Homo sapiens: one gene and its partners. The protein of the gene in region 2 purifies or fractionates together with the protein of the main gene of each other region. This does not show direct contact. Each region holds a gene or a part of one and is shown on either strand. Other genes may lie near its edges.

Region 1 (2,639 bases), on a different chromosome or scaffold from region 2:
GACGTGGCAGAGACAGATGACGATGGTGATGACCAGGACCACAAATGTGAACATAGACGTGGGAGCTAGGAACCCTGGTGTTGGGGGGCAAAGAATGGGGTTGCTATCTCCTGTGGGCCTCCCCACCCCAGCTTCTGATACCCTCTGAATGCAGTCCTCACTCTCCCAGGTGCTACAGACTGGCCCCAGCCTCTCCCAGGCCCCTTGCCTGCCACCCCCAGCCATGCGGCTTCTCCTGTGGCCTGCTCTGGCTGGAATCCACTCTGCTCGCCACCCCCCGTTCCCTGGGTAGGGATCCCTCACCCGTGCGCATGGTGGAAAAGAAGAGCAGCCAGAAGAGGCAGAGGATGGGCGCGGCCACCACCTGGTTCACAGCCCCCGAGTGGATCTTCTTGTCCAGCTTGGCCGGCAGGTAGGCGTAGTAGAGATTGTACCTGTCTACCAGGTGCTTCAGCAGCATGTACATGAGCCCTAAGGGAAGCCACATGGGCCCTGACCTCGGAACCAGTGCTGCCGAACCTTTTGTGTGTCTGTCACAGGTTGTTCTGGTCCTGAGAGTGCTGAAGGGTTGGCCCCCTCCTCCTGCCCGGGCCCCAGGACGGGATAGTGCCCCGTGCCCCAGCGTGATCACAGAACTTCAGCTTCCTCCGCTACAACCCCTCATTCTACTCTCCTCATCAGGAATTCTACTATTGGAAATCTAGTCATTTGAATCAACAAGCATCTTCTTAAAACCCGTATCATTTTTCTCTAACCCTGTCCCTAAACAGATACGTATAAATTAAGGGACAAGTTCTATTTCCCCAGAGGCTGAGGGATAGGGAGTTTCTAATGAGGACAAGGAAGTTAGTTTGGGAACTTGGAGCCTTCAATAACCAGGGAGGGTTGGTTAAGGAGTTAGGATGTTATTAGGGAGGAAAGTAGAGGCTACCAGTGGGGGTGATGGTTAAAGAGAAACTTTGCTAAACTTCAAAAAGGAAGAGAGACCTGGCCAAGTCACATAGCTCAGATACAGCAGACTATCTCCATGAGTGGCAAGGACCCATCCCACCCTGGAATCCAAGTCTTTCCTGAGTTTACAGGGTGGTGTAAAAGTGTGCACATGGATGCCTGTGTGGGAGTGTGTGTGTGAACATGTCAGCACGTATGTGATCTGTGTCCAAGCACATCCCGCTGAGGGAAGGCACAGGTGTGGGTAAGTATGGCCATGTTGGTGTGACTTTGCCCTGGGGCCCACATGCCAGCTGGGTCTGGCCTGAGCTGATGGCTCTCCCCCTCCTCCCCACAGGCCAGGCCCCAGACTGAGCCAGGGACCGGGCGGGAGCCCCGAGGGGCCGGTCTCCCAGCCGGGCCCTGTCCACTCGGGGTGGCCTGCATTCCTAGAGTGGAGAGGGTGAAGTCCTGGGTCCCCCCGAGCAGGGCCCAGGTCCCGGCGCGGCGGTGCCTACCGAAGGGCACGATGATGGGGCAGGTGATACTGTAGGTCATGACCACCGTGAAGACGCACATCATCCAGGCGTAGGCTGCGCCAAACTGGAACTCGTAGGCCTGATGCTGGGGGGGAGACGGGCAGGAGGATGGCTCAGGGAGGCAGGGACTGACCAGAGGGGCAGGGAAGGAGGGAGGGGGAAGGGAGCCAGGACCTCTGGGGCCGGAAAAGAAGCCATGGGGAACAGGACCTAATGTCTAGGGTAGGGTAGGGCAGAGCAGATGGAGAGAGGGGCTATGGCCGAGAGGAGGGTCAGGGCGGTTGCAGTGATGGGGCACGGAGAGGGGCCTTCAAGGGTCGGGGCCTGGCAGGTAGGGGGCAAGAGTTGGGTGGACTTGAGAGTGGGATGCCCAGAGCCCTCTTATTAAGACAGAGGGACCCTAGCGCTAGGGACCCAGATCTCCCCAACTCCCATCATAGAATGCTACTGTCAGAACTGGCAGGGGCCTTCAGGGTTACCTATGTCCACCCATGGCAGAATACGAAGGCCCCAGATATGGGAAGGGGATGGCCCGGATCCACCGTGAGTCAACTGTACTCCCCAAGTCTCAGCCCTCCTGTGCCCCTCAACCCTAGCGCGATGGCTGCTGTTTCTTGTTGGGCCACCAGGGGGCGCTGTGCGGGCCGCTGCTGCCCCAGGCGGCCGTACCCGCTTCACGTTGCGCCTCTCGGCGGCCGAGCGCGCCAGGCAGAGCCGGATCATGTACATGAGCAGGCCTGGGATGCGCAGCAGGTCCATGGCGTTGCCGATAAAGGCTGAGGCAATGACGTAGTTCACGAAGAAGGCGCCGTTGTCGGGCAGGAACACACACCTGCGGGCACCAGGTGCTCCAGCACTGCACCCTTGGGGTGACCCGGTGGCCGCCCGCCCACTGCCAGAACTACAGCACCCAACACCTCCACCACCAACATGCTTCTTCCATGTGGACACCCCCAGCTTAGCGCCCCAAGCACCTGTGCCCTGTTCCCCCCAGAGACATACAGAGTGGCAACAGACAGCTCCAAGAACTTGTGCCCCATAAAGACCCATGGAGAGAGTGCTCAAGACCACCTAAGGCTGCTAGAATGTTCAGGGGAGAACTGTCCAGGACCCCCAAAGACAACCCAATGAGACCCTCAAAGAACCCAAAGGCTGACAGCCCCAGGAACA
Region 2 (5,257 bases):
GAGAGAATATATATGTATAATTTTTTTATTTTTTGAAGCAGAGCCTTACTGTCGCCCAAGCTGGAACACAATGGTGCGATCTCGGCTCACTGCAACCTCTGCCTCCCAGGCTCCAGTCATCCTCCAACCTCAGCCATCTGAGTAGCTAAGACCATGCCCAGCTAATTTTTGTACTTTTAGCAGAGATGAGGTTTCACCATGTTGCCCAGGCTGGTCTCGAACTCCTGGCCTCAAGTGATCCTCCTGCCTTGGCCTCCGAAAGTGCTGGGATGACAGGCATGAACCCACATGTCCAGCTGAGAATGTACATTTTTAAAAACTATTACTGGGGTCTTGACATCTTAACTCTGTCACTAAAAATGTGGGAGACATTGTGAAAGTTACTTACCATGTTTAAGCCTCACTTTCTTCATGCATCAAATGGGAATAAATAATAATTATCTCTATCTCAAAGTTTTTATGGATAAAGTGAGATAATTCATATAATTTTATTGAAACAAAATATTTTCTTTTATATCTGCTATTTACTTTACAATTACAGTAAATGGACTAGTTATCTCCTCAACTTATGTAGACATGAAGTTATCTAAAAGTTCTTACCAAAGTTGTAAGTCTCAAGAATTCACAAACCAGGGTGATTTGTATTATATCAAAAAGTCTGTCACTTTCGAATAAACCTTAATATTTTCTACCAATATTTTGTGAACTTGCCTTGACAATCAGGCTTTTTCCCCTTTAATTTCTATTACTATGTTACAATTTAAATGTGGTTAATCCTGTAACAATAGCCTTAAATTTTGTTCACAGCTTATAATTTTGTGAGGCCTATTAAGGGATTTTCCAGAGGGGATACTTGTGCCACTTACAACTATACATATATACACATATATATTACTGAAAGACTTCCCTCACGTATCTGGGAAGCCCCTTCAGTCTTAGACGTCAGCAGACTCACTGTGCAATGTAGTCAGGAATGGCAACAGTACCGGTTGCCTCGAGTTCTGAACTGTGTGCTCTGCTCTACTGCTGCCTTGCTGAATGACCAGATCCCTTCCATCCCTCCATCTCTCTGTGCCTGAGTCTCCTCATCTGCAACATTGGAATAATTATATGCATCACCTCCTTACTGAATAGGAGTATAAGATAAAGTGTTTAAAAGTGCTATGAGATGTTGGGGTGGCACAATATTTATCAAACTTATAAGATTTCTGTTTGTTTTTAAACTTATAAAAAGGTATTTCTTAAACTTTCTAAAGTTTTATATAAAAATCTCAATTAAATTATCTAGTTTATTTAAATTAATTATCTGGAAACTCGAGGATTAGAAAGAGTTATTTTCTCTGCATCATTTATCTCTTTCAGTCCTTCTTCCAAGCAATATGTTGCCGAAAATGTAAACTTAAGGATGAGGAATTGGAATCCCATGGCATATTTATGTGATTTTAAATCTATTTTTGTCATCTTTATCTTAAACTTTTGAAAAAACAATTCTTTCAAAATATAAACTTGAAAGTTGAACCATCTTTGATTAGGATTTTAGTTTTTATCATTGTTTTCATATACATTATATTGATTATTCTTAATTTTTGTATAACTGCATATATCCTTTTGTATTCTATATTATTCATATAGTCTAGGTTTTTGTTTTCTATGTCAGTGCTTAAGACTGGGAAATAAGTAAAATGTGCCATAATTCATTTTCTATACAACTAAAAAACTAAGTTACTGACAATATTCTCTAACTGGCCTGGAAAAAGAACAATACTCTATCAAACGTAATTTCTTTTTCTGACAATCAGAATTAAAATAAACAGAAAACGAAGCAGAAACTTTCCATAGGTAATAGATAAGTGTTTCATAGGCTAAAGTACAATATGGAGACCAAAAGGCTGAGAAATACTTTCCGAAGGCAAAGTAAAAGAACAAAATGACATTCAAATTCTCCAGTCTTTTTTTTTTTTTTTTCTGAGACAGTCTCACTCTGTCACCCAGGCTGGAGTGCAGTGGTGCGATCTCAGCTCACTGCAACCACTACCTCCTGGGTTCAAGCAATTCTCCTCCCTCAGCCTCCCGAGTAGCTGGGATTACAGGCATGCACCACCATGCCTGGCTAATTTTTGTATTTTTAGTACAGATGGGGTTTCATCATGTTGGCCAGGCTGGTCTCAAACTCCTGACCTCATGATACATCCACCTCGGCCTCCCAAAGTGCTGAGATTACAGGCGTGAGCTACCACACTCGGCCTACATACTAATTTTTAAGGTATTGCAGCGAAAGTGTCTAAGTTCTTATACAATTTGGCTCATTACTTAACCATTTATTTTAAATTTGACTAAGCTTTACTTCAATAATTAATTTTATATAACTCACCACTTTTGCATCAATTGCAACCTGAGCAAAGCCTCTGCGATGACCCCATACGATGTTATAAGTTTCATCACTAATTAGGGCTTCTCGAACTCCACCTGGTGAGATAGCTAACAAGTGGCCACTCCTCAGAATTTCAACACATTTTTCTCTTGGTCCATGTAGAGCACAAAACACATCCAGTAATAAACTAAACCCTGTAAGAAACATGAGTATGAAGTTACAACATAAGTATTTCTTGTTTAATTCTTCAAAAGAAAAATCTTCACAAACTACATAGTGTACTATTTATACTTAAATCAGTAAACTTTTTTACTTGTTAAAATCAACAAAAACTCTAAAGGTTAACTTAAGCTTGATATTAAGCTTCTCTGGCTCAAATTCTTAAGTAAAACTCACAACAATCTTGACAAACAGGTATTCTTCTCCCCACTTTACAAATGAGAAAACTTGGGCTTACAGAATAATAGCTTGCTCAAAGTCACACATCTAAGAAGTGGCAGGGCAGAGATTCCAGAGATAGGATTCTAATGGGATTCAGAAATGATATCCCATCAGCAATCAGAAATCTAATCTTCCATTAACCCTATAAAAAAGAGAATCACTCAGGAGAATGTGAATCAAACTACGCTTAGCTCTTCCAAAACTGGCAAGACCATGATCAAATCTATTTAAATTAAAAGTTAGATAATGCTAATTCTATAATTAAATTTTTAAAATAGCAAACATCATTAAGAGATTTTAATAAAGTGAGAGTGCTTGACTCAAGAGCAGCTAATTCCAAGTCTTAATATTATACAGCTTTTCAAATTACAACTGTTTATGGATGAAAGAAATAATCCTGTTAGTAATTAAATATTTTAATCAAATCCCATACTGGAACTTCTGAGGACTGATGTTAGTATACATTATTCCCTGAGAATGGGAAATATAGCGATGCATTTGATGTTAAAAACTACGCAGACTGGTCAGGCACGGTGGCTCACGCCTGTAATACCAGCACTTTGGGAGAAAGAGGCAGGTGGATCACTTGCGGTCAGGAGTTCAAGACCAGCCTGGCCAATGTGGTGAAACCCTGCCTCTACTAAAAATACAAAAATCAGCCTGGCATGGTGGCACGTGCCTGTAATCCAGCTACTCAGGAGGCTGGGGCAGGAGAATGGCTTCAACTCAGGAGGGGGAGGTTGCAGTGAGCCAAAATTGTGTCACTGCACTGCAGCCTGGGCAACAGAGCAAGACTCTGTCTCAAAGAAAAAAAACAAAAAACACTATGCAGACCAACCAAACTTCTCATTAAAGATCTGAGGCAAGTTTATAAATAGCATTAAGATTAAAATAATTGTCAGACCGGGTGTGGTGGTTCACACCTGTAATCCCAGCACTTTGGGAAGATGAGCGGGCAGACCACCTGAGGTCAGGAGTTTGAGACCAGCCTGGCCAACATGGCAAAACCCCATCTCTACTAAAAATACAAAAATTAGCCGGGCATGGTGGCGCACGCTTGTAATCCCAGCTACTCAGGAGGCTGAGGCAGGGAGAATTGCTTTAACCCGTGAGGCGGAGGTTGCAGTGAGCAAAGATCAAGCCACTGCACTCCAACCTGGGCAACAGAGCAAGACTGTCTCAAAAAAAGTAAAAGAAAAGAAAATAATTGTCACCCCACATTATATTAAATGTTCACTGATTCAACTAGATGCATTCTCATAATGAATGAATGAACAGGGAAGGATTCATACATAATAGGATAAAATATAGGATCCCTTTTTTTTTTTTTTTTTTTTGGAAACAGGGCCTTGCTCTGTCACCCAGGCTGGAATGCAGGGGCACAATAGTAGCTCACTACGGCCTTGCTCTACTGGGCTCAAGCGATCCTCTCACTCAGCCTCCCAAGTAGCTGAGACTCCAGGCACTGTGCCACCATGCCTGGCTGATTTTTTTATTTTTATTTTTAGCAGAAACGAGGTCTTGCTATGTTGCCCAGGGTGGTTTCAATCTTCTGAGCTCCAGCAATCCTACTGCCTTAGCCTCACCAAGTGCTGGAATTACAGGTGTGAGCCATGGCACCCACCCTAAAATCTCTCTTGTGCTGAGAATTATAATGATTTTATTCCTTCAGAAAGCAAAGAAAGACTTAAGGTCTTAGTGTCTTAAGGTCTTTAATGATCTTTATGATCATTAAAAAGATCATAAAGAGGAAAATTTTTTGAAAAAGGCAAATGCTAAAAATATTCACATTTTATTATTGCTAAAAACGAAAAAAGTAGAAGCAACCTAATGCTCCATTAGAGAAAAACAGTTAAGTAAATGTTCTAGTCATACACTAAACGTTTTTCTTATAAAACATGGTAAAAATATTAATGCTAACATTAAATCTTAAAAAAAAACCCCACAAAACTGTTTGCCTATGTTACTGTAAGTAAAAAAATGAAGTAAAATAAATCAAAATGAAAACATTATGTTAAGATGGTAAGATTATAATGATGTTCTGTTTTTTAGTTTCCAAATCTACTATAGTGATCATGTTAGTTTTTAACAGAAAACATAGCCATAAACAATATGTTTATACACAAATGGCTTTTTAGTGACACATGGATACCCAAAGCATTAACTGTTTATAGGCACTGAAGTAGATCATTACTTAATTCACTGTTTGGTTGTGTTTGTCTGGTTGATGTGTCAGCTTTTGCTTTTATACCAGAGAACATACTAACAACTCTCTTGGCTTGTTTCTGGTGATTCAGTGACAGAAGAAAATAAGATTTAATCTCAATGAGTTTACTCAAGAATGATTTTTGAAAAACTCTAAACCATTTGGTTAATTAATCTTTTTTTAAAAAAAATATAAGGTCGGCTAGACGCAGTGCCTCACGCCTGCAATCTCAGTACTTT
Region 3 (5,257 bases), on a different chromosome or scaffold from region 2:
CAGCCCGGCTCAGCTTGTTGCCAACAAGGTAGTCTTGTCCATGGCTCTTTAAGACCTGGAGAATGGGAGGAATCAGATCAGGAACACATGCACACCCAGGCTAGGACCCCTGCTTCTTTCGGAGCCTCTCCACCCTGACTTTCCCCACCTCTGTTGCCTTACTGCATGGGTGCAGAAATCCAGAGCTTTCTCCACATTATCTGAATGAATGAGAGAGTAAGAACTGTAACTCTACTCACTCCTCAGTTGTAGCTCAGGCTCCCATTTTCTCTTCTCATTCTACATCACTGTGGCATCTACACCACCCACGCAGCTTGCTTCTTCCACATGGGCCAGGGGCTTAGCACCTGCCTCCATGTGTTCTGTCTGCCCCAGGCCCTACAGCGTGGAGCCCTCACATTCAGGATGTGGCTCTACATTCTGCTCTCTCCCTCTCCAATCTCCCTTGGGCAGTGACTCCACCTTCATGACAACACTCTTCCCCAGGAGGAGACTATTTCAGAGTCCTCATTTCTCTTTGTCTGCTCTCCTCATTCCCTGCTCTATCTCCCTGGGATCTGTAGGAAACCTGGGTGAACCTGAATTCATCTTTCTTACAGCATTGACTCTCACTCCCAACTGGCACTATGTTATAATCTGCAAGCTGAAGCGTTTACGGGTGAACTGCACTGATGTCTGCAACTTACTCTAAAATCCATTTTAAAAAATCTTCCTCTGCATCCCACAATCACTCTCCTTTTAAAAAATACCCATCCCTGAAACGCTACAGTATTCTCTGGTTGGGCAATTGGTCTCCTATCTTCCTGCATATGGTGCCAGAATATTTTCTGATGGATCGCTTTCATCATGCCCCTGTTCAGTCAAAGTCCATGGGGTTCCATAGACTCAACAGCAACCTCTAGTGTGGTCCAGAGCCCACATTCTACTTATGAACATGAAATCTTGTTGAACAGGTAATTCCATGTTGGGGTCCAGTAAATTAAAATTTTACTGGAAAAGTATAGCTTGGGTATAAATGATACAATTGTTTCTCCAAGTCTATTTTCATAAAATGCCTTGAGAGTCAGAGTGCTGCATTGGTGTTCAGGAAGTCTCACTGAAAGTGAAGATCAGTGACCCAGGAATGCCCAGCCACTATTTTTCTATTGGCCTCTAAACTCAGTTCCCCAAAACACTGAACTGCTTCACTTACTTTTTCAAAGGCAGGGAAGTAGCGATTTTTTATTTTCTCTTTGATCAAGGCAAGCTTGGCATCTTTTTCCTCAGGTGGACATACGGGCAGAAGGAGGATCATTTCACCCAAATCTGCTATACCTTCTATATACATATCAATCCTGAAAGACAGAAACAACCAAATGGTCAAATACCTTTTGCCTTAGATTTTATAGGTTTATAAAAACCTAAGGGAGTAGAGTATCAGGTGATGGCAAAATAATTCACCTCCAGTGGGTGCCTTTTATAGTCTAGTCATTATGCTCTGAGTTTTACAGGTATATTAACATTTATCTCTTAACCTATCAAGGTAGATAGATCTCTAAATTTTGTTACACACATGACCTAATACAGGTAAAAAGAACGTCGGTGGTCACAGTCATGAGAGAAATTGGCAGAATCACTGCCAGTACCCACTGATGCTGTGCCAAGATTTATCATCTCCATTGTGGTTTGTTCTGTGCATGAACTTAGTGTGAGTCAAATGGCCAAAGACCTGCTTCCTAAGTAATCCTAAGAGAGTCCCTGGCACAGCCATGTCAGCCATATTCCTTGTCCTCTCTCATCATTTTACAGCTCCCAGGGCTGCTTCTATGCCCCATATTTGCAGTTCTTTCAATTACACCCATGAAACACATTTCCACAGCCCTTTCCATGTGCTGTTGCGCAACTCTAGCCATGTGTGCCTTTCCTGAGACCCCACCTAAGAATCCCCTTCCCTGGTGAAATTCTCTATACAGTTACAACCAGTGCAAACTTTTCTTCTTTTGTGTCAAACTGGAGTTTCACAATACTTTTTAAAACAAGAACTTTATTGATGCATATTCACATACTATAATTGCCACCAGGTATATTATACTATTGAGTGGTTTTTAGTGCACTCACAGAAATCTGTAAAAATAACCACAGTCTAATTGCAGAATTATTTTTGTCGCCCTGATAAGGACACCTGTACCATTAGCAGTATTCTTTTTTCTCCAAGCCCCACTCCTTTAGCTCCAGGCAAGCACTAATCTACTTTCTACCTCTATGGATTTGACTATCTGGACATTTCATACAAAAAGAATCCTATAATATGTGGCCTTCTGTGTCTTGTTTCTTTTATGTAACATGTCTTATGGCTTAACTGTCTTATAGCATGCATTAGTACTTCATTCCTTTTCATGACCAAATATCTTTCCATTGCATGGCTAAGGCACATTTTTCTCCTTCATTTATTGATTGATGGATATTTGAGTTGTTTCCACTTTTTGAATTCTATGAATATTGTTATTCGCATTATTTATTTATGTAAAATATATAGTGTGGATGTATTTTCGATTATTTGGGGATATACCTGTTAGAGGAACTGCTGGGTCATTGGTAATACTATATTAAAGTTTTTGAGGAGCTGCCAGCAGTTTCATTCAGGATTTATTTGGAATCATGCAGTCTCATCACAACAGCAAGGAGACCCCTTGGTTTTGCTGGTATTGAATCAATCTGGCTGTTTTGTGCTTCTATCCATGTGTCAAGGTAACCCCAGCATCCTTGGTGCCAGCCTCTACTAGCCCTGCTCAAGTATTCCAGTTGATATACTTGGTTGGTAATTTAGGTTCCCGGTCATCATTCTTGGAATTACTGGGACCTTAGCTTTGGCGTCTTTGCAACTTTCCCTCCCCAGTCCTTCATCTACAGACTCTCACATATTCTATGCCTGTCCTAAACTGTTGGCCAGAGTCGAGCCTCTGAAGTCCTGAGCACCTGGAATCATGATTCCCCATCCTCCTCAGTTCATGGTTCATCCGTGTTTGGAAATTACCGTGAGGTGCTGGATCCATGGACTGCATCCTCTTCTAGAATCACCCTTGCCTGAACCCTCCCCATGTTCACTGTTCCCTCATCTCCATGGGACTCTGCAATACTGGACCTCAGCGTACATGCCCAAGGCCCAGCCTGCTGCTGGTCATGATGCCCTGCCATCGTCCCACCCACTCAAGGAAGGACCTAAATCACTCTGTGTTCTCTGTGGATGGAAGAACAGAAAATATACCGTACAGGGCTCTCTCCTTTATGTCTTTCCCATAGAGGTTGTATTTGCTGGCAATGTAGTTGAGAATGGCTCTGGTCTGCACCAGCTTCATCCCATCAATCTCAACCATTGGCACTTGCTGGAACATCAAATATCCATCTTTAGAAGGAAGAAAAAAAAGGAGAGTGAAGTGTCTATGAAACCCACCCTTTTGGGATGAACAAATGGTTGTGGAAATGACTAAATTTGTAAAATGGCAAAGAAATTACTGCCTGGTAAGATTTCACTTGAAACAAAAACTATATATATATATATATATATATATATATATATATGTGTGTGTGTGTGTGTGTGTGTGTGTGTGTGTGTGTGTGTATATATATATATATTTTTTTTTTTTTTTTTTTTGGCAGAGTATCATTCTGTCACCCAGGCTGGAGTGGAGTGGCATGATCTTGGCTCACTGTAACTTCTGCCTCCCAGGTTCAAGTGACTCTCCTACCTCAGCCTCCCAATAGCTGGGATTACAGCCATGCACCAGTGCACATGGCTAATTTTTGTATTTTTACAAGCAATAGGGTCTCACCATGTTGGCCAAACTGGTCTCAAATTCCTGAACTGAAATGATCTACCCACCTCAGCCTCCCAAACTGGGATTACAGGCATGAGCCACTGCACCCAGTCCAAACAACATTTTTAAAAAGCTTCCTGTAGTTCTTCTTTTTCTTAAGAAGTTTCCTTTTACTTTTTATCCATTTATTTCATATATGTTTTTATTGCCCCTCCAGATACATAGTGGGACTCTTGTATTTTTTGTGTTGATTTATCTTCATGGATATTTTAGGAAGAGGTTGGGACAAGTTACAATAGGACTGGCAACAAGATGCCATTTAAAACAGGAAGTTCCCAGAGTAAGTCTCATGGTGTTGTGACATTTAAGGCAGGTTCTGAGAGGTTTTTATGTAAGGGTCCCTTTCTGTGCTCTTCAAAGTCTGCGATATTGCTACAGTGTTACCCAGTCCCACTCCCCCCATGAAAGAAAAAACTCAAGACAGTGGCCACATCTATTCCTCCTCCTTTTGTCTAATGCATGTTCTTGCATGTGCTTGGATGGGGAGGGCTGTATGGGATCCTGTGCTGATGACCACCACTCATTCATGGTGCCCCAAGCATGAAAACAAAGAAAGGGCTTTCTCAGCGGTGGGAGATTGTTCCTCTAGCAAATACTCTGAGAGGTCTGGTCCTTTTAACCTGGAGAGAGTTGCCAGACTTGCTCAAGGAGCCACATCCCTTCCATTTTAACCACTTTCTCCCTCTGCACCATGTACAAATACCATGCCCCACACCCATAGACATTGCCGGCTGCGCAAACCTCCCCGTGTACCTTCTACTAGATACCCTCATCAGAGGAACTTAGAGATTGATCTTACCATTTCTTAACTTGTCCAAATCTTCTGCAGATTTTATAAATTTCTCTTCAAACTGGAAGCAGAAACAGTAAATACGTTCTTGTTAGTTCATTCTATTATAGACTGTGGCCTTGAATGGCCCCATCTGGTGCATCATTTGGAGAATACAAGATTTCTGAGTTTGGCAGGGTACACAGAGGGGGCTGGTCATGGCCATTTGGAAATTTAGACCTAATTCATTGAGAAAAGTGCATGGGTCACAGCACATAGCTGCTAAATCTTTTAGTTCACTTCAACTCCACCCTGATATGAATGTCTATGATTAGGTCATATTTTGAGGGGGACATCACTGGAGAAAAGGCACTGAGCAGTTCTTCTAGTTATGGTGTTGTCATATCTTAGGAAAGCCTGTGTCTCCAAGTGAGATCAGACCACAACCTTGTGTGTCCCCAGCATGAGGCATGCCATGGGCTAATGGCTATCAAACATTTTGCCACCAAGGAGCCTCTGCTGTAATTTGTATCGCCCCACTTCTCAGGAACCCTGCTAAGTGTGAAATAGGTCGCCACTGTTGCACAGCTTTCACACTTGCAACTGTAATTTTCTCTTCTGAAGTACGAGGCAC
Region 4 (5,257 bases), on a different chromosome or scaffold from region 2:
TGGCTCTGACCACCATCCTCCCACCCGGAAGAAACAAGCCATCCCTCAGTGTCACGTGACAGCAGGCAGCTCGGCAGTTACAGTGGGCCTGGCAACCCTTGGTCTTCCATCAAAAAAAAAAAAAATTAAGACAACCAAGGGAAAGTTTCCTTTTTTGAAGGCAGAGGAGGAGGATGGAAAAGGTAGGGAGGGAGTAGGGGGACAGGAAAGAAAAATCAATCTACAATCCAGTGGTGCATCCCAAATCTGTCACTCTGTACAGGTGGTTCCACGCTCCCATTCCAAAGTGCACGGGCCTCTCGGTCTGCCCAGGTTGAGTGGGCCTGTCATAGGAACAGCAGCTTGGCCACTGCCCACCCAGGTCACTGAGCTTCAGTTGGAAGTGGCAGCAATGGGCTTATCCAGTTCAAGGTCAATGCTGGAGCTTGTGGGATGTAGGCTGCTATAGCAAGACTTGCATACTCGACTGGGTTCAAAGAGCTGCTGGCTGGGAACTGGAACCTTCTGGTTACAACAACTGGAGCAGAATACGTTCCCACAATTCCTTGAGATGAGAAGAAACAGAACAATGTTAGTTTTGGCCAGCAGGTATGCGGAGGGAAACCAACTTCAAAAGACAAACTTTGCCGTGTGTAATTTGCATGTGCTGGAGCTCCTTGAGATCAAACCCTTTCATCTCTCTAGCCCAGGAACAAGCTGGGTAGGGAGGGTGTCCCTACCTAGCAGAGTCACATGTCATTTTCACTTTGGGGCCAAGGATTCTTGGCTGCCTCACCACTGACTCAAAAGAATGCTGCTCAGGTATACAAAAGAATGCTGCTCAAGAGAGATCTGTAAGAATACATGGTCCTAACAATGGGTTAGTCCTGATCCAGGAAAACCCAGTGGCCACACCCACCTAGGCAATGCCCTCTGTGTAGCTTGTGATCACAGAGGCCAGGCTCCTCAAACGAGAGAAACAACTACCCAGCCTCACTGGGGAGTAAGGAGCCTTGCCCAACGGCCACTTCTCCAGAGGATCAAAGGCAGCAACATGGCAGATAGACTGCTGCCATTTTGGACTGCTCTGCTGGCAGCATGCAAAGCCAGGGACAAGTAGCCTGTGATGCATGCTCAGAGGGTGAAAGAGGAGAGGTGGGAGGACAAGAACACAGGATGAACACACGTGCACACACACCCCCTTATTAGATAGGTGTCAGTCAATTATGGCTCACTCCCCGACCCATGCATCTCCAGGGAAAACCAGAGTTCTACCAGAAGGCCAGAATGCACTCAGGCCCCAGGCATCCCTCTCCTCCTCCCCTGAAAGCTGGGTTCTGAGGCATCTGTGCAGCACAGTTCTGCACCCCCAGATGGATGCCCATCAGAGCCAACAGGAAAGGGAATTGGCAAAGAATGAGTTTCTGCCCACCTTACAACTCTACTTTTGCTGGGCCCTGAGGTACAAATCAATCCTAATGAGCCTAAGAACAAGAAGCTCCAAGGAGCCTGACACAGCCCACCAAAGACTGGGGGAGGGCAGCTTCTTAGCCTTCTAACTTTTCATTTATGCTGTTCGGAATGCAAACCCACTGCTGGATTAAGGATCACTTAGGCACAGGAGGAGAGAAGACTAAGACCAGTTGGGAACAAAAGAATACCACAAAAGGAAAAGGTGGGACATGGGGCAATGGAAAGACAGAAAAGAAAAACACAAAATTCATCTTCTAGAATGCTGTACTTCGTAACTAGTTCTAAAAAGCGTGAGTCAGCAAAAACCTGTAGTTACACAGAAAAATTTCTGAACATCTACACTTCTTTAACATTCCTGCTGGAGTTCAGCTCAAAAGCCTGACATGAATTTGATGCTTTTCTTTCTTTTCTTTACTTTTTCGAGATGGGAGTTTTGCTCTTATTGCCCAGGCTGGAGTGCAATGGTGCGATCTTGGCTCACTGCAACCTCCGCCTCCCAGGTTCAAGAGATTCTCTTCTCCTGCCTCAGCCTCCCAAGGAGCTGGGATTACAGGCGTGCACCACCATGCCCAGCTAATTTTGTATTTTTAGTAAAGATGGAGTTACACAATGTTGGTCGGGCTGGTCTTGAACTCCTGACCTCAGGTGATCTGCCATCCTCGGCCTCCCAAAGTGCTAGGATTATAGGCGTAAGCCACCGCACCTGGCTGATGCTTTTCTATCTGACTTCTTTCAGAGGACCCTGAAAGACACTAAGTGGAATCTTTCCTTGAAGTCTTCCAAGCTAAAACAATTCTCTGGAAAGATCACCTCTGTTCAGTCCTGGTCTCTTAAAAAAAAAAAAAAAAGGGAAAAAAGAAGCAGTGATGCTGTTTGACCTGGAAATTACTAGCATTATTCTGGCATCTCAATGAATCACTGACCCAAAATAAATAGCTCTGAAAACCCAACTGGTTCCCCTACAAGACCAGAAGACAAGAAGCACTACTTCTCGTCACAAGCAAGACGGCCTGGCTGACCTCTGTGATCAGGAGGGGAGCACATGGCTGCAGCCTGACCCACCCTCGATGGCCTCTCCTCAGCTGCTTTGAATCCCCTCAAGCCCACCTATCTGCCTGTGCACCCAAGGCCCCAGGCTTCACCCTAGTAAGTGCAGAGAGGGGGAAATGATAAGAGTTAGTGTGGAGAAGTTATTGTAGATGTGCAGACATCACAGGCAGGTTGTTGCAAATGCTCACCACGTTTGATCAACACGGTCAGTGTCCCTGCAAGGAGGGGAGAAAGAGCTCAGAAGAGAAGCCAACCAAAGATATCTGGGCTTGGGGTGCAGGGTGGGGAGATACATGTCCTAGAAGCATCATTACTAGGCAAAGAGACTGTTCCATTTTCAATCCACCCACTCGTGTGGGTGAGCTATGGCATGATTCAGATAAACTTCCTCTTCTAAGAACACTGAACATCCACCAGACAGTCAACACCCTAGCTGGGGCAAAGGGTCCCTAGTAAACTCACTACCCTAACCCAGAAGGAAAAAGAAGTCAGGAACCTTAATGATTGGAAGACTGTCCTCAGCTGTCTCTACTACTTCCCAAGCTACAGCTGCTCACCAATGGCACAAGGGAAAACAAGTGTGGGGTCAGGGAGCAGGAAAGGAATAGGAAAATAGTTCCCTCCCCATCGCAGGAAAACTGGTTTTGCTCATAGTAGCCATGTTGAATGGGAAGAAATGTTATGCTGAGAATAAGAAATGGTGGTTTCAGTGGTGGCTGTTGTTTCACCAATCTGGGAAACAACAAAATGCTACCATTTGCACATTTCAGAATTTAACAGTGATTACTCTGAATTTGAACAAAGATGCCAAATGCAGTTTTGCAAACACCAATTTCAGAGGCACAGGAAGATGAGACCATGGCTCTGCCTCAGACAGAACACTGAGATACCCACAACCCTCTACTCTGCAGGCTCTGTGGGCCGACCCTCAACCTCCACACACAGCCCACCCTACCACAGCCCCTCAATGGTACCTGCAGTGGTGCTTCCTGCTGGCAAGCCAGAAGGCACTGTCGCACGCATAGCAGTGGGCGGCCAGGTGGTCAGGAAGCCAACGGGTCATCTGCAAAACAGATGGGACCAGGTTACTGACAGGAGATGGGCCATCCAGCTGGAGCCAGCAGAGCCATGCTGGGGGCAGCAAGAGTCACAAGGACCACATCAGCTCCAGTGGCACCAGCCCAGCAGATCTGATGTCAACAGTACAAGAAAGGCGTCCAAATCGTTTCCCTGGAGGGGACTCCAATCTCCCCTGAGATAAAGTAGCAGGCAGCAGCACCCTGGGTCACTGTGAGAGCTGGCAAGGCTCCAGTTCATAGAGGCAATGAAGAGGGAGGGCCAGCTTGCTGAGTCTCCCTGGCTCAGAAATCCTAGGCTTCATGTGGGTTCCCAGGAGCTAAGGTGCCAGAGGCTCAGGGCTAGCTGTGCTGGGAGGTGCTTCCTTGGCCAGGGGTATGGGGTGGGAATGGGGGTGGAGAAGAACCACAAAACAGTTAAATTGATGGCACTCAGAGCAGGGGCTGAGCCTGTACCTCTGTGTCCTGTTTATCCACCTGCTCCCAGCTGGCTTCAGAGAAAATCTCTGTGCTGCAGCGAGACAAACAGTTCTGATCCAGATTGCTTTCCGAGTCGGGGATTGAAGTCTGTTGGCAAACAAACACAGCTGAACAGAATGAACCTGGTCTCCTCCCAAAAGAAGAAAAGGCCTGGTGAAGAAGGGAGAACTGAGGACTCTGGGTGGGGCCGAGTGCTAGGACTGCCGAATCTGCAGATGCATCAGCCATCAAGAACTGGGGTGAAGAAGTGCAGTGTGGGCCTGGGCTCAGCTGGGAGAGGGATACACAGGTTGTGTGCAGTGACTCTGGAGTAGAAAAACAGGCCCTCAGGGTTCCAGAAAGTGAGTGAGAGGGAAGTGACCAAAATGGAATGAGAATTCTGTATGTCAGCTGCTCCAGTGGGCCTGTCAATCCAACCCTGCCTGCCACTAAGTTAAAGCTGAGTGCTTTCGGGATGCCCTCCTTTTCTTAGAAGGACTCTCTGGGAACATGAGAAACTATCATTAGCATGAAGGAAAAGCCAAGTCACTCTGAACTGAAAGTCACTGGATGTGCCCGCCTTTAATGTACGCTGACCACTTGAGAGCCAGGCTCACACTTGTACTTGAGCTGCCTGAGTCAAGTCCACCCAGAGAGGAAAGCACCTCCTTGAGAACCTCCCCCTCTGGAACCCCCATTTCCAGCCACAAACCCCCATCAGAGCTAACTCCTCAACAGTGCTAGAAACCAGTCCCTTCTCTCCATTTCTACTGGCAGCATCTGCCACAGGATGGGTATAAATATTTGTTTAAAAAGAACTGAACCTTCAAAGCCATAGCCCACGTCTGGAAGGACTAATACTTTGTAGTTACTAAGGCAGAACAGGCACTAAAATCTGACAGGAATAACTTGGCATTGCCCTACAGATGTCATTCTGCCCATGGGTTCAAGCCCTTCTGAAGACTTATGATCCTGTGTCTGAGAGATCTGATCAACCATGCAGTGCATGCTAAGTCTCTTCCTCTCCAACGGCCTCAACAGGACATCTGCAGAAAGTAAGCGAAGCAGAAAACAGGCAGGCTGCCATCGCTGTCGTGGAGGCTCATCTCCAGCCTCTCTTAACAGGGCTACTCTGGACCTTTCCAATCCTTTAACAACCTGTACCAATCACCATGCACTGGGCACAAAGGGCACCCAGCCTCAGCATGCCGTCTCCTTGG
Region 5 (5,257 bases), on a different chromosome or scaffold from region 2:
AGTTTAATTTCTTACTACCTTCCTAAATAGGAACCACTGCATTCAAAACAAGTATACCACCATTTAAAAACAAGTATGCCACCGGGACGATGTGGGATGCGTCCGTTCCATAGGACCTTGAGTGTGTTTCCGAGTTAAAAATACGAGGAAGCAGCAGTATTTAATTTGACGGGTCACCTGACTTTTCTCAGAGCAACCGCTGTTATTTTTTCAACTGCGTCTGAGAAAAACGGGGGACCGGGTAATTAGGATCTGAAGTGGGCTGGGATTCAGACTCGGGGGGCTTAGCTTAGCAATGCCTCTTCTCACCCCCGCCTGTGCTTGGGAGAGGGCAGGCAGCTCGGGAGGAAGGGGCTGGGTGTGCTTGAACCCGTGCCTTGTTTTATACTTACTAGCTGTTTTTCCATCAGGTTCCAGGCCAGAATCACACTGCACAGTTTTAACCCAAATACACAGCTAAGGACATGCTGCTTCCCTAGGTGACTGACTGCAAAGAAAACGCCTGCCTGCAACATACCTTCAGACCCATTTCTTCGTTTCGGTACTTCCTGAAATAGTCTGTTCAGGCTCTGGCCTGGATTCTCTGTTGAAAAACAAGTGTGGTAAGAACAAAACAATCAGGGGAATGGTGGTGTTGACGATATGGGCTGTGTGACATGAAATCTGAGCCGCCTGTCACTAAAGAAAGGGCTCAGGGCTGCCTGTGCAACTCGGGAGTTTCTAGAATCTTCTGAGAGGCCCTTCCCTGGCTGACCGGCCCGCAGAGGCCGTGGCTCTGCTGCAAAAGGAGATGGGGGAAATCTAAGTAGCGACCTACGGCATTGAGGCCAGGGAGGTCCATGGGAGGGAGGACTGCCTTGAAGGAGGATCACCCGCCAGCCCCCAGAACAAAGCTCGCATTAATCATCCAAAGACATTCAATTTCGGTTAACATCCTCATAAAACACTGCATTTTCTTGGTGCAAATTGATGCTGTTCAAAACATCTCCCTGCTCTGTTTGAGTCTAAATTTCAGGGTGTTTCAAACATGTCTGATGAAATGACCTCTCAATAGCTCTGTTGATGTGGCACATTGATCCCCTGGTCTTAAACAGAAAAGGAACTTTCTTTTTTGTTTTTTTATTTGAGGCAGGTTCTCACTCTGTTGCCCAGACTGGAGTGCAGTGGCTCAATCATGGCTCACTGCAGCCTCCACCTCCTGGGCTCAAGCCATCCTCCTGCCTTAGCCTCTCAAGTAGCTGGGACCACAGGTACACGCCACCACGCCCAGCTAACCTTTTGATTTTTTTGTAGATCAAAAGATTACAAAATATATGTTGCCCAGGCTGGTCTTGAACTCCTGGACTCAAGCGATCCATCCACCTCAGCCTCCCAAACTGCTGGAATTATAGGCGTGAGCTACTGTGCCCGGCTGGGATTTTTTGAAATTATGAATGTGACTGACATTTTATCTTTTTACGGAGGGTGGGGTAGAAAGGGTGCTTAAATAAAACTTTTGTGTATTTTACTCAAGCCAGGCCTGTTTTACTCATAATGCTAAACAAATCACTAATGGACCGTGAACAATGTAGGGAAGGTGGCCATGGGACACGCCCTCTTCTGCGGGGTGGGAAGAGGGGAGGTGTCATCTGTGATGTGTTCTCCCTACAGAACCAGCTTTGCATGAGGATCGAGCCCAGTCAACGTTGCTGCTATGGGGCTGGAGGGGACTTAAGGGCTCCTCCCAAAAGTGAGACCAGCACCCAAGGCCAATTGGACCCGCGGCCACTAAGCATACGGAGACGCTATACATCATGTAATGCAATTCCCTCTGATACGATCTCTAGTATTGAAATACTATAGGGTTTCCTAAGTATGGAGTGCTGAGTGCGTTTCAAAGGCCAGATCTCCCAAATCTAACAGCCTTAACTCATGCCGGGCCACCCTTGAGCTCTGGACGTGGCAGAAGCAAAGAGAACTTTACCTGATGTGATGCACAAATGTTTCATCACGCACACAGACACACGCACGCATGCACACACACATGTGCAACTCTGTGACGGGCTCGCACGCTGGCGCCACCCAACGCCAGTCTCTCACCTCTTTGTCTGCCTTGGATGCTACGGAGGGCCAGGATGTTCTGCTCATCGGAGAGGAACTGTTTCATCTTGTGAAATGGCTCCTTGCCACGAACAGTCAGTTTATTCCATGGCTTGGGCCGGGCCAGAATCTCGCTCACGGACCCTTGAGACAGTCCCAACACATAATGTCCGAAAATACGTTGTCCGATATTGTGCTTAATCAGCTGCTCTTTGACCTGCCGGGCGATTTCTGCAGTGTCCATCTCCTCGCCCTCGGAGACGCTCCCAGCACTTTCTGACTGGCTGGGGGATGGGGCCATGCCATTGACATCTGGGCTTTGTTGTAATGGACTTTGGGAAGATATGGAGTTTGTGCTGTATGGACCTGTTGAAAAAATCATGCTTGTGCTTCCGGCTTCCTGCATAGCCTTGGAGTAGAAGGACTGCATTAGCTGCCGCTGGAGAAGAGAGTTTAGTGCAAATTTTCCTGTAGAAGCCAGGGGTAGGCTGGGGCTTGCCAGGGATGAGCTGAAAAAGTCTTGACTTAACCCCGCTGGTGAGAACTGGTGTGTACCATTAGTATTGGAAGCCTGCTCCCCCGGGTTGCGGGGCAACTGAGAAGGAGGGGGGGCCGGCAAAGATCCCGGGCGCCGACTTTCAGGCTGGTCTTTCCCTTTCCTCCTGGCTGACCCTACAAGGAAGGGCAAACAGAATGCATTATGGGGGATTCCAAAGGGGGAAAAAAAAACCAAGACCAAAATGCAAAAGTTTGCCCCCGCAAAAGGGAAAACAAAAAAAAGTGCAGGTTTTTTTTACAAGGGCCAATGAGGTGGGTTGGTTTGTTTTCCGATTAAATTTGTAAGTCAGCCAAACGAGGCTTCCCAAAACAAGCAACATGCATTCATGTTTGCGCCTTTCTTGTACGTTGCAGCCTGGAGAGTCCCCTTGACATAGACTCAAACTCCTAGCGTGACAAGGAGCTGGTGACACACACAGGGAAGAGTTGACGGGTCGCGGGCCTCTTACTGGGCCCGCTGGCCCCGGCCGGAGGAGCAGCAAACACTGACATTTTAGGACCAATGGATTCGCTCGCACCTCTTGCTCTGAGGCGATGCACCGTACCGAGCCCCCTCGATGTGGAGGCGCGCGCCCGTTTTGAGAATGCAATACCATTAGAGCCCGAGACACCTGTACGCGTTTTACCAGCTGCCCAAACCAGAAGCACAGTCAAGTGACGCCACCATTTGGGGGATGAGCCAAGAAAGGCTAAGGATGGGGGACGCGTCCCCAGGGGAAACCTGACCAAGGAAGAAAAACCTCTACTGGACCCGGCAGGCCCGGGGCTGTCCCTGAAAACACCACCAGAGCGAGGCTGGGTTCACACTGCCCCTGGCCTCTGTGCAGCACAACCAGACACAGATCAGAAAGGCCGACGTCCTCCGAGCTGTCCCTCCCGGGGATTCCAGCCGCACTGCCCCTAACTGACCTCCGCAGAGCCTGTGCGGCTGGCCCGTCTCGACATCCAGCTTTAAGCAGGGCGGGGAAGGGAAGGGAGGAGCGGTGAGGAGGAGGGCACCCAACACGCGTTAGTCAAAGGTTCTCGTCAACCGGCGCTTCTCTGGCCATGCATCTGTCCAGACTCACGATTCACCTTCCTCGTCCTCGACCGACCCCTGGAAGCGAACCAACCACCGCACACGCGCGAAGCCCGGCCAACCTACCGCTCAGGTCGCTGTTGGAGATGCGCAGCGCGGCGTTCTCGGACTGCAGCGAGCGGTTCTTCTCCAGCAACAGCACCTCCAGGGGCTTGGCCGCATCCTAGAAGGGGCAGAGCGGGGGTCTCACTGCGGGGCCGGCCACTCACCCGCTCCCGGGGCCACCAGGCCTGGAGCCCTGCCTCCCTCCATCTGTCCGCGTTCCCACCCAGCTCTCGATCTGATTAGGAAGTGGGCTGCGGACAGCTGATTTCCCCCCAAGTCGTTTAACACACGTGGAAAACAAGTTCCCTTTAGAAAGAATGGATTCTAGTTGAAGTCATTTTCCTTCTTAGACTTCCACAGCTCCTAAAAAAATTAATTATTCTCTCATCTGTTCTCAAACTCAAGCGACCTGAGCCCGTGCCTCATTTGGCCATAAGACTGGCTGCCAAGCCACAAACGTCTGTCCGAACGTTACTGTAAAGGGAACTTTTCTTTTTTTTTTTTTTTTGCCAGCCACAAAGATGTTGGCTGTCTTCTGGGCATCAGGAGTCAGATTCCACTTAGGATGTCAATTTTATTTGATTTGATTTTTTAATTTTTTGAGATGGAGTCTCACTCTGTCGCCCAGGCTGGAGTGCAGTGGCATGATCTTGGCTCACTGTACCCTCTGGCTCCTGGGTTCAAGTGATTCTCCTTCCTCAGCCTCCCAAGTAGCTGGGATTACAGACGTGCGCCACCACGCTCAGCTAATTTTTTATATTTTTGGCAGAGATAGGGTTTCACCATATTGGCCAGGCTGGTCTCAAATGCCTGACCTCAAGTGATCCACCTACCTCAGCCTCCCAAAGTGCTGGGATTACAGGAGTGAGCCACCATGCTTGGTCTGGGATGTCAATTTTAATTGGCCACCAGATGACCCTGGGCCACAGTCATCCTTCCCTTGTACCTTCTCTACTGAGGCAGCATGTAACTAAAGTTCCTAAACCAATCCATTTTTGGCTGCTCTTTAATGCAATTAAAAAAAAAATAGTCAGTCTCAATCTGTTGTCCAGGCTGGAGTGCAGTGGTGCGATCATAGCTCACTATAGCCTTGAACTACTGGGCTCAAGCGATCTTCCTGCCTCAGCCTCCCAAGTAGCTGGGACCACGGGTATATGTCACAGTACTTGGCTATTTTTTTTTTTTTTAATAGCAACATGGTCTTGCTATATTGCCCAGGCTGGTCTCAAATTCCTGGCCTCAAAGCGATCCTCCTGTCTTGGCCTCCCAAAGTGCTGGGATTACAGGCATGAGCTACTGAGCCTGGCCTTCTTAAACACAATCTGAAATTGTTTTTTATTTATGTTCTTAGTACCTGCTGAAGTGAAATCACAATTTCACTTCAGTTACCAGTTTGGAAAACACTAGCTTTTCTCTTTTTGCCTCTTTTTGTTAAAGATAATTTGCTTTTTGGTAGTGCCCATCTCCTATCAGTCAGGGATGAAGCAATCCCTTGTT
Region 6 (5,257 bases), on a different chromosome or scaffold from region 2:
TTTTTGAGACAAGGTCTCGCTGTGTCACCCAGGCTGGAGTGCAATGGCATGATCACAGCTCACTGCAGCCTCAACCTGCTGGGAGCAAACAATCCTCCTACGTCAGCCCTCCAAGTAGCTGGGACCACAGGCGCACGCCACCATGCCTGGCTAATTTTTGCATTTTTTGTAGAGGTGGGGTTCTACCATGTTGCCCAGGTTGGTCTCAAACTCCTGGGCTCAAGCAATCTGCGCACCTTGGCCTCCCAAAGTGCTGGGATTACAGGCATGAGCCACTGCACCCAGCCTGAACTACACACATTCTTATCTGCTTAGATGTTGACTTAGAATTGTTCTCTAGTTGGCCGGGTCTGGTAATCCCAGCACTTTGGGAGGCCGAGGCGGGTAGATTACGAGGTCAAGAGATCGAGACCATCCTGGCCAACATGGTGAAACCCCGTCTCTACTAAAAATACAAAAAACTAGCCAGGTGTGGTGGTGGGCACCTGTAGTCCCAGATACTCGGGAGGCTGAGACAGAAGAATCACTTGAACCCGGGAGGCGGAGGTTGCAGTGAGCCAAGATTGCGCCACTGCACTCCAACCGGTGACAGAGCGAGATTCTGTCTCAAAAAAAAAAAAAAAAAAAAAAAAGAATTGCTCTCTCTAGTTGTTCTGTGTCTTATCTTACAGCTTAAAATTATCTTGAAAGTAGAACCAATATCTTCTATTTCTTTGCTGTAGCCCACAAAACCTAGTACAGTAATACGCAACTTGTAGGTATTAAAGAAACATTTGTTGAATTGATAAATCAGATACTAAGTTAATGAAATGATTATTAAATGGGTCACAGAGCTTATTAAAAATTTGATTAAAAGTTATGGCCCCTCTCCCAGGAAAAGTAAACCTATGAACCTGTAGCCAAATTCTGCATAGTTTGGGGAAGGAAAAAAAAAATCACTGAAATCCTGAAACCTATCACGGTCCCCTCACAATGACTTAGTTCAAAAGACCCTAAAACCAATAATTTGGGATGCTGGGCTTTTTGTTTTCCTTTATAATATTCAACCAATAACATATGTTATATTTTAACTTTAAAAACTTTCAGCCAGGCTGGGCATGGTGGCTCACACCTGTAATTCCAGTGTTTTGGGAGGCCAAGGCAGGAAGATCACTCGACGCCAGGAATTTAAGACTAACCTGGGCAACAGACCCGTCTCTACAAAAAATAAAAATTGGCACATGCCTAATGAGCTAATTAGCTACCTGGGAGGCTGAAACAGAAGGATTACCTGAGGTCAGGAGTTTGAGGTTACTATAATTGTGCCACTGCACCCAGCCTGAGTGACAGAACAAGACCCTGTCTCTAAAAAACAAAAAAGCTCTCAGCCAATAAACAAATATCAAAATTTGAGATATATATACACATATATACACGTATATATGTATATATGTGTGTATATATATAGTATACATATATACACACATATATGTATATGTCTATGTATATACGTATACATGTATATATGTATACGGATATATATACATATATGTGTATATATATATACGCGTATATATGTATATATATCCTTTGAGCACAGTATTTTCATTCAAAAATACTAGCACAAATGCAAAAATATGCATACAAAGTAACCCTACTGGCCAGGCGCAGGAGCTCACACCTGTAATCCCAACACTTTGGGAGGCCGAGATGGTGGATAACTTGAGGTCAGGAGTTCAAGACCAGTGTGACCAACATGGTAAAACCCCGTCTCTACTACAAATACAAAAATTAGCTGGGCATGGTGGCGCATGCCTGTAATCCCAGCTACTCGAGAGGCTGGGGCAGGAGAATCACCTGAACCCGGGAGGCAGAGGTTGCAGTGAGCTGAGATTGTGCCACTGCAGTCCAGCCTGGGCAACAGAGCGAAACTCTGTCAAAAACAAAAAAACAAAACAAAAAAAAAACACACAAAGTAACCCTACTAAACTATGTACTTAAAAATGGTGTAGATGGTAAATAGCATGTGTATTTTACAATTTTTTTTTTTTTTTTTTGAGATGGAGTCTCACTCTATTGCCCAGGCTGGAGTGCGTGGCGTGATCTTGGCTTACTGCAATCTCCACCCCCCCAGATTCAAGCGATTCTTATGCCTCAGCCTCCTGAGTAGATGGGATTACAGGTGCCTGCCACCATGCCCGGCTAATTTTTGTATTTTTAGTAGAGACAGGGTTTCACCATGTTGGCCAGGCTGGCCTTGAACTCCTGACCTCAAGTGATCCACCTGCCTCGGCCTCCCAAAGTGCTGGGATTACAGGCATGAGCCACCGTGCCCAGCCTGTAATTTACAAATTTTTAAAAAGCTACACATATAAGGATGTAAAGCACTCCCTGTAATGATAAAAAAAAAAAAAATGGAAATTACCTAAATGATGAGTAGGAATCTGGTTATATAAATTGTGGACTACTCTGAAGCCAATAAAAACAAGAAAGGGAATTTAGATGTGCTGTCATGAGAAGACAACCTAATACAAAGCGGGAAAAACAATTTGCAGAATATGCAAAAAAGTAAAAAGCGTATGTAAAAATATTCTGATTTTGTTTATAAAAAATGTTTCCATATGAAAGCGTGAGTGTGGATTTACCTATGTAGAGATAAACATTTGGAAAGACACGTACCAAATGTTAGCAGTGGACACCTGTGGGGACAAGGATCATAAGGGAAGATTTTCATTTTCTACTTTTATATTGACTATTTTTTTAAAACAAGAAATAGGTATTACTCTCATAAATTAACCAACATCATCTCACTTCTCCCCAAACATTGAGCCAGAAGATACCTAATTTTATGTCTCCCTTTTAAATTCTGGCCTTTTTCTGAGGGAGTAATATAAGGCCATCCTCCTGCTGGGAACCCATTTCCCTGAGAGTCAGATGTTTCTGGAAGCTAATGCTGGACACAACAAAGGTTGCTACTAATATAGCAAGCTCCCCATGCCCTGTACCAGTGAACAAAAATCAAGACCATTCCCACAAACCTTCCTAAAACAGTCCTTTCTGTTTTGTTCTCTCCCCTGCTTGGGTATATCATACAGAGTGATAGCAGCTCCTCCAGGAAAGAAAGTATCCAACCTTATCTTCAGAGGACCTTGAAAACACACAGAGTGCACTCCAGGCTAGCTACAAGTCTTGGCCAAGTTTTTCCTGCAAATGACTCAAGAAGTTGCTTTTAAATACCTCAGAAAGAGGCCGGGCACGGTGGCTCACGCCTGTAATCCCATCACTTTGGGAGGCCGAGGCAGGTGGATCATTTGAGGTCAGGAGTTTGAGACCAGCCTGGCCAACATGGTGAAACCCCATCTCTACTAAAAATACAAAAAATTGGCTGGGCGTGGTGGTCGGTGCCTGTAATCCAAGCTACTCGGGAGGCTGGGGCAGGAGAATCAGTTGAACCCGGGAAGTGGAGGTTGCAGTGAGCCAAGATTGCACCACTGGCACTCCACCCTGGGCGACAAAGTGAGATTCCGTCTCAAAAAAAAGAAAGAAAGAGAACATTTAGATGAGATGGGAAACAGTTACTGCCTTCCTAGTGGAGAGAGGAGAAAGGAAGAAGGGCTTTTCTTACCTGTCCAGAGAGCGGCCAGAGAACTCCTGGCTCTGGGCCACTGGGGAAAGGTAAAGATCCATGTTTTCTTCCCCAAGTGTGCATGGAGATGATGCTGGCAGATAAACAGCTGTCCAGAGGTGCAGGGCCCGGACATGACAAACAGGATGCAGGACCTAGGGAAGCAGCCCAATACTAGTGCTTTGTCAAGAGTTCCTTGTCCTTTTTCTTTCCCTAAGCCCTTGACTCTACATTTTCCCTACTGACTCAGCTGCTTCTCCCTATAGGTTTCTAAATAGCACCTACAGGAAAAGGGCTCAGACTCACCATGTCTGAGCTGGGTGTGTAGAGGAAGTTATGAAAGTTTTTATTGCCAGCTCGAAGGAGCGCCCACACAGAGCAGGTCCGCTTGTAGATGTTGCGCTTCTCTCGCTCACAGGGGTTGTTGGCCAGGAAGGTGCCGTAGAGGCAGGAGTATGTGTGTTGCACCAGTTTTACCTAGAAAGCAGAGAGAGCTTGCACCTGGGGGCCTCGGGCTGTCATTCCCCCCATCCCTGTTGTCACAGGCCTTAGGACTTACCAGGAATGCTTCATTAAATTCAAACAGGCAGGGGAACTGCTTAAGCAACTGATGAACAGAATCAAGCCACTGGAGGAACACAGGGCATTGTTCGTTTTGGTCCTCCACATTCTCTTGGTGGCCACAGCGATCTCCAAACTTGTGCCCAAAATCCAGCCAGTCAGACTCCACTAACACTTGGAAGCCCTGCAAAAAAAGAAACTGTTCAAACATAGGGCCTCTCTGGAAATGCTGATGTGCTACTCCCCTGGGAACTGCCCAAAGCAGGAAGCTGGCAGCTTCAAAGAAAAATAGGACTGGACCTAGAAGAGGACTCAAAGCCACCAATTTTCCAAGCCTTTGGGAGTTGGAAAAAAAAAGAAAAAAAGAGCCACCAATGTCCTCTACTGAAAGATCCCCAGGACAGATCCAGAGGGCTCAACACCTTCCCTCCTGCCACATTCCTTCTGGTTTTCCCACCGAATTCCTCTCAATACCTCCAACGTCCTGTAATATGGGTCCAGTAATATTTTGGCCAGGGCTACGATCTGCGGTGTGCGGTCCCAGCCATCTGAGCAGTGTACCAGCACAGGCCGGCCTTCCCGGTCTACTGTATTAGCCACCAGCACAGCTGCTTTTAGCATCACCGACAAGTGCTGCAGCCATTTGGTACTCTCCAGTGCCGACAACCAGCTACACAAAAGCAGACATCAAGTCGGTCACAAAGGGTGCTGAGGCCACAGCAGTCTCTCCACCATCCACAGCCAGCCCCACCCAACAAAGTCCCCATTGAGAACTGAAACCAAGAGGTACAACCCAGGGCCTTTTGGACAAGAGGTATCTAGCAGGAAGGTAGGGAAGACAGGACCTACAGCAGATAAAAGCATCTGAAGCTCAAAAGAGGAACTGAGAAGCATCACATGCACACTCAGCCATTTCCTCTCCCCAGTTCTCTGTGTTCTTTGAGTAGAACAACTGATCCAAACGAAAGGAATCCATGTCCTGTGACCACGCCAAAGTGTTGGCTGAGAAGTGGAAGGGTTCTTGGAACTAGCCCACGGCACCCAACTCCACCCAGGCCCTCAGGTCTCCTGCTCTCCAAACTTCTCATCTCC

The links.
Region 1: the proteins of TMEM68 (region 2) and TMEM63B purify together in Homo sapiens (affinity purification with mass spectrometry; one large-scale study listed by BioGRID and IntAct). This does not show direct contact.
Region 3: the proteins of TMEM68 (region 2) and GSTA1 purify together in Homo sapiens (affinity purification with mass spectrometry; one large-scale study listed by BioGRID and IntAct). This does not show direct contact.
Region 4: the proteins of TMEM68 (region 2) and MTMR3 purify together in Homo sapiens (affinity purification with mass spectrometry; one large-scale study listed by BioGRID and IntAct). This does not show direct contact.
Region 5: the proteins of TMEM68 (region 2) and CUX1 purify together in Homo sapiens (affinity purification with mass spectrometry; one large-scale study listed by BioGRID and IntAct). This does not show direct contact.
Region 6: the proteins of TMEM68 (region 2) and MTMR4 purify together in Homo sapiens (affinity purification with mass spectrometry; one large-scale study listed by BioGRID and IntAct). This does not show direct contact.

Annotation. Positions count from the first base shown.
Region 1 is NC_000006.12:44,151,508-44,154,146, reverse strand, and holds part of TMEM63B (mechanosensitive cation channel TMEM63B), read right to left. Parts: intron 2,302-2,639; coding exon 2,139-2,301; intron 1,555-2,138; coding exon 1,449-1,554; intron 472-1,448; coding exon 304-471; exon of another isoform or gene 170-303; intron 75-169; coding exon 1-74. UniProt on the Homo sapiens protein: Mechanosensitive cation channel with low conductance and high activation threshold. Osmosensitive cation channel preferentially activated by hypotonic stress.
Region 2 is NC_000008.11:55,748,593-55,753,849, forward strand, and holds part of TMEM68 (DGAT1/2-independent enzyme synthesizing storage lipids), read right to left. Parts: intron 2,566-5,257; coding exon 2,372-2,565; intron 1-2,371. UniProt on the Homo sapiens protein: Catalytic subunit of the alternative triglyceride biosynthesis pathway, which mediates formation of triacylglycerol from diacylglycerol and membrane phospholipids.
Region 3 is NC_000006.12:52,792,933-52,798,189, forward strand, and holds part of GSTA1 (glutathione S-transferase A1), read right to left. Parts: intron 4,706-5,257; coding exon 4,654-4,705; intron 3,383-4,653; coding exon 3,250-3,382; intron 1,335-3,249; coding exon 1,193-1,334; intron 56-1,192; coding exon 1-55. UniProt on the Homo sapiens protein: Glutathione S-transferase that catalyzes the nucleophilic attack of the sulfur atom of glutathione on the electrophilic groups of a wide range of exogenous and endogenous compounds.
Region 4 is NC_000022.11:30,020,917-30,026,173, reverse strand, and holds part of MTMR3 (phosphatidylinositol-3,5-bisphosphate 3-phosphatase MTMR3), read right to left. Parts: intron 4,146-5,257; coding exon 4,035-4,145; intron 3,566-4,034; coding exon 3,477-3,565; intron 2,718-3,476; coding exon of another isoform or gene 2,691-2,717; intron 545-2,690; coding exon 373-544; 3' UTR 1-372. UniProt on the Homo sapiens protein: Lipid phosphatase that specifically dephosphorylates the D-3 position of phosphatidylinositol 3-phosphate and phosphatidylinositol 3,5-bisphosphate, generating phosphatidylinositol and phosphatidylinositol 5-phosphate.
Region 5 is NC_000007.14:102,194,128-102,199,384, reverse strand, and holds part of CUX1 (Homeobox protein cut-like 1), read right to left. Parts: exon of another isoform or gene 5,180-5,257; intron 3,879-5,179; coding exon 3,782-3,878; intron 2,752-3,781; coding exon 2,080-2,751; intron 584-2,079; coding exon 518-583; intron 1-517. UniProt on the Homo sapiens protein: May be involved in intra-Golgi retrograde transport.
Region 6 is NC_000017.11:58,500,140-58,505,396, forward strand, and holds part of MTMR4 (phosphatidylinositol-3,5-bisphosphate 3-phosphatase MTMR4), read right to left. Parts: intron 4,836-5,257; coding exon 4,640-4,835; intron 4,350-4,639; coding exon 4,164-4,349; intron 4,082-4,163; coding exon 3,911-4,081; intron 3,760-3,910; coding exon 3,605-3,759; intron 1-3,604. UniProt on the Homo sapiens protein: Lipid phosphatase that specifically dephosphorylates the D-3 position of phosphatidylinositol 3-phosphate and phosphatidylinositol 3,5-bisphosphate, generating phosphatidylinositol and phosphatidylinositol 5-phosphate.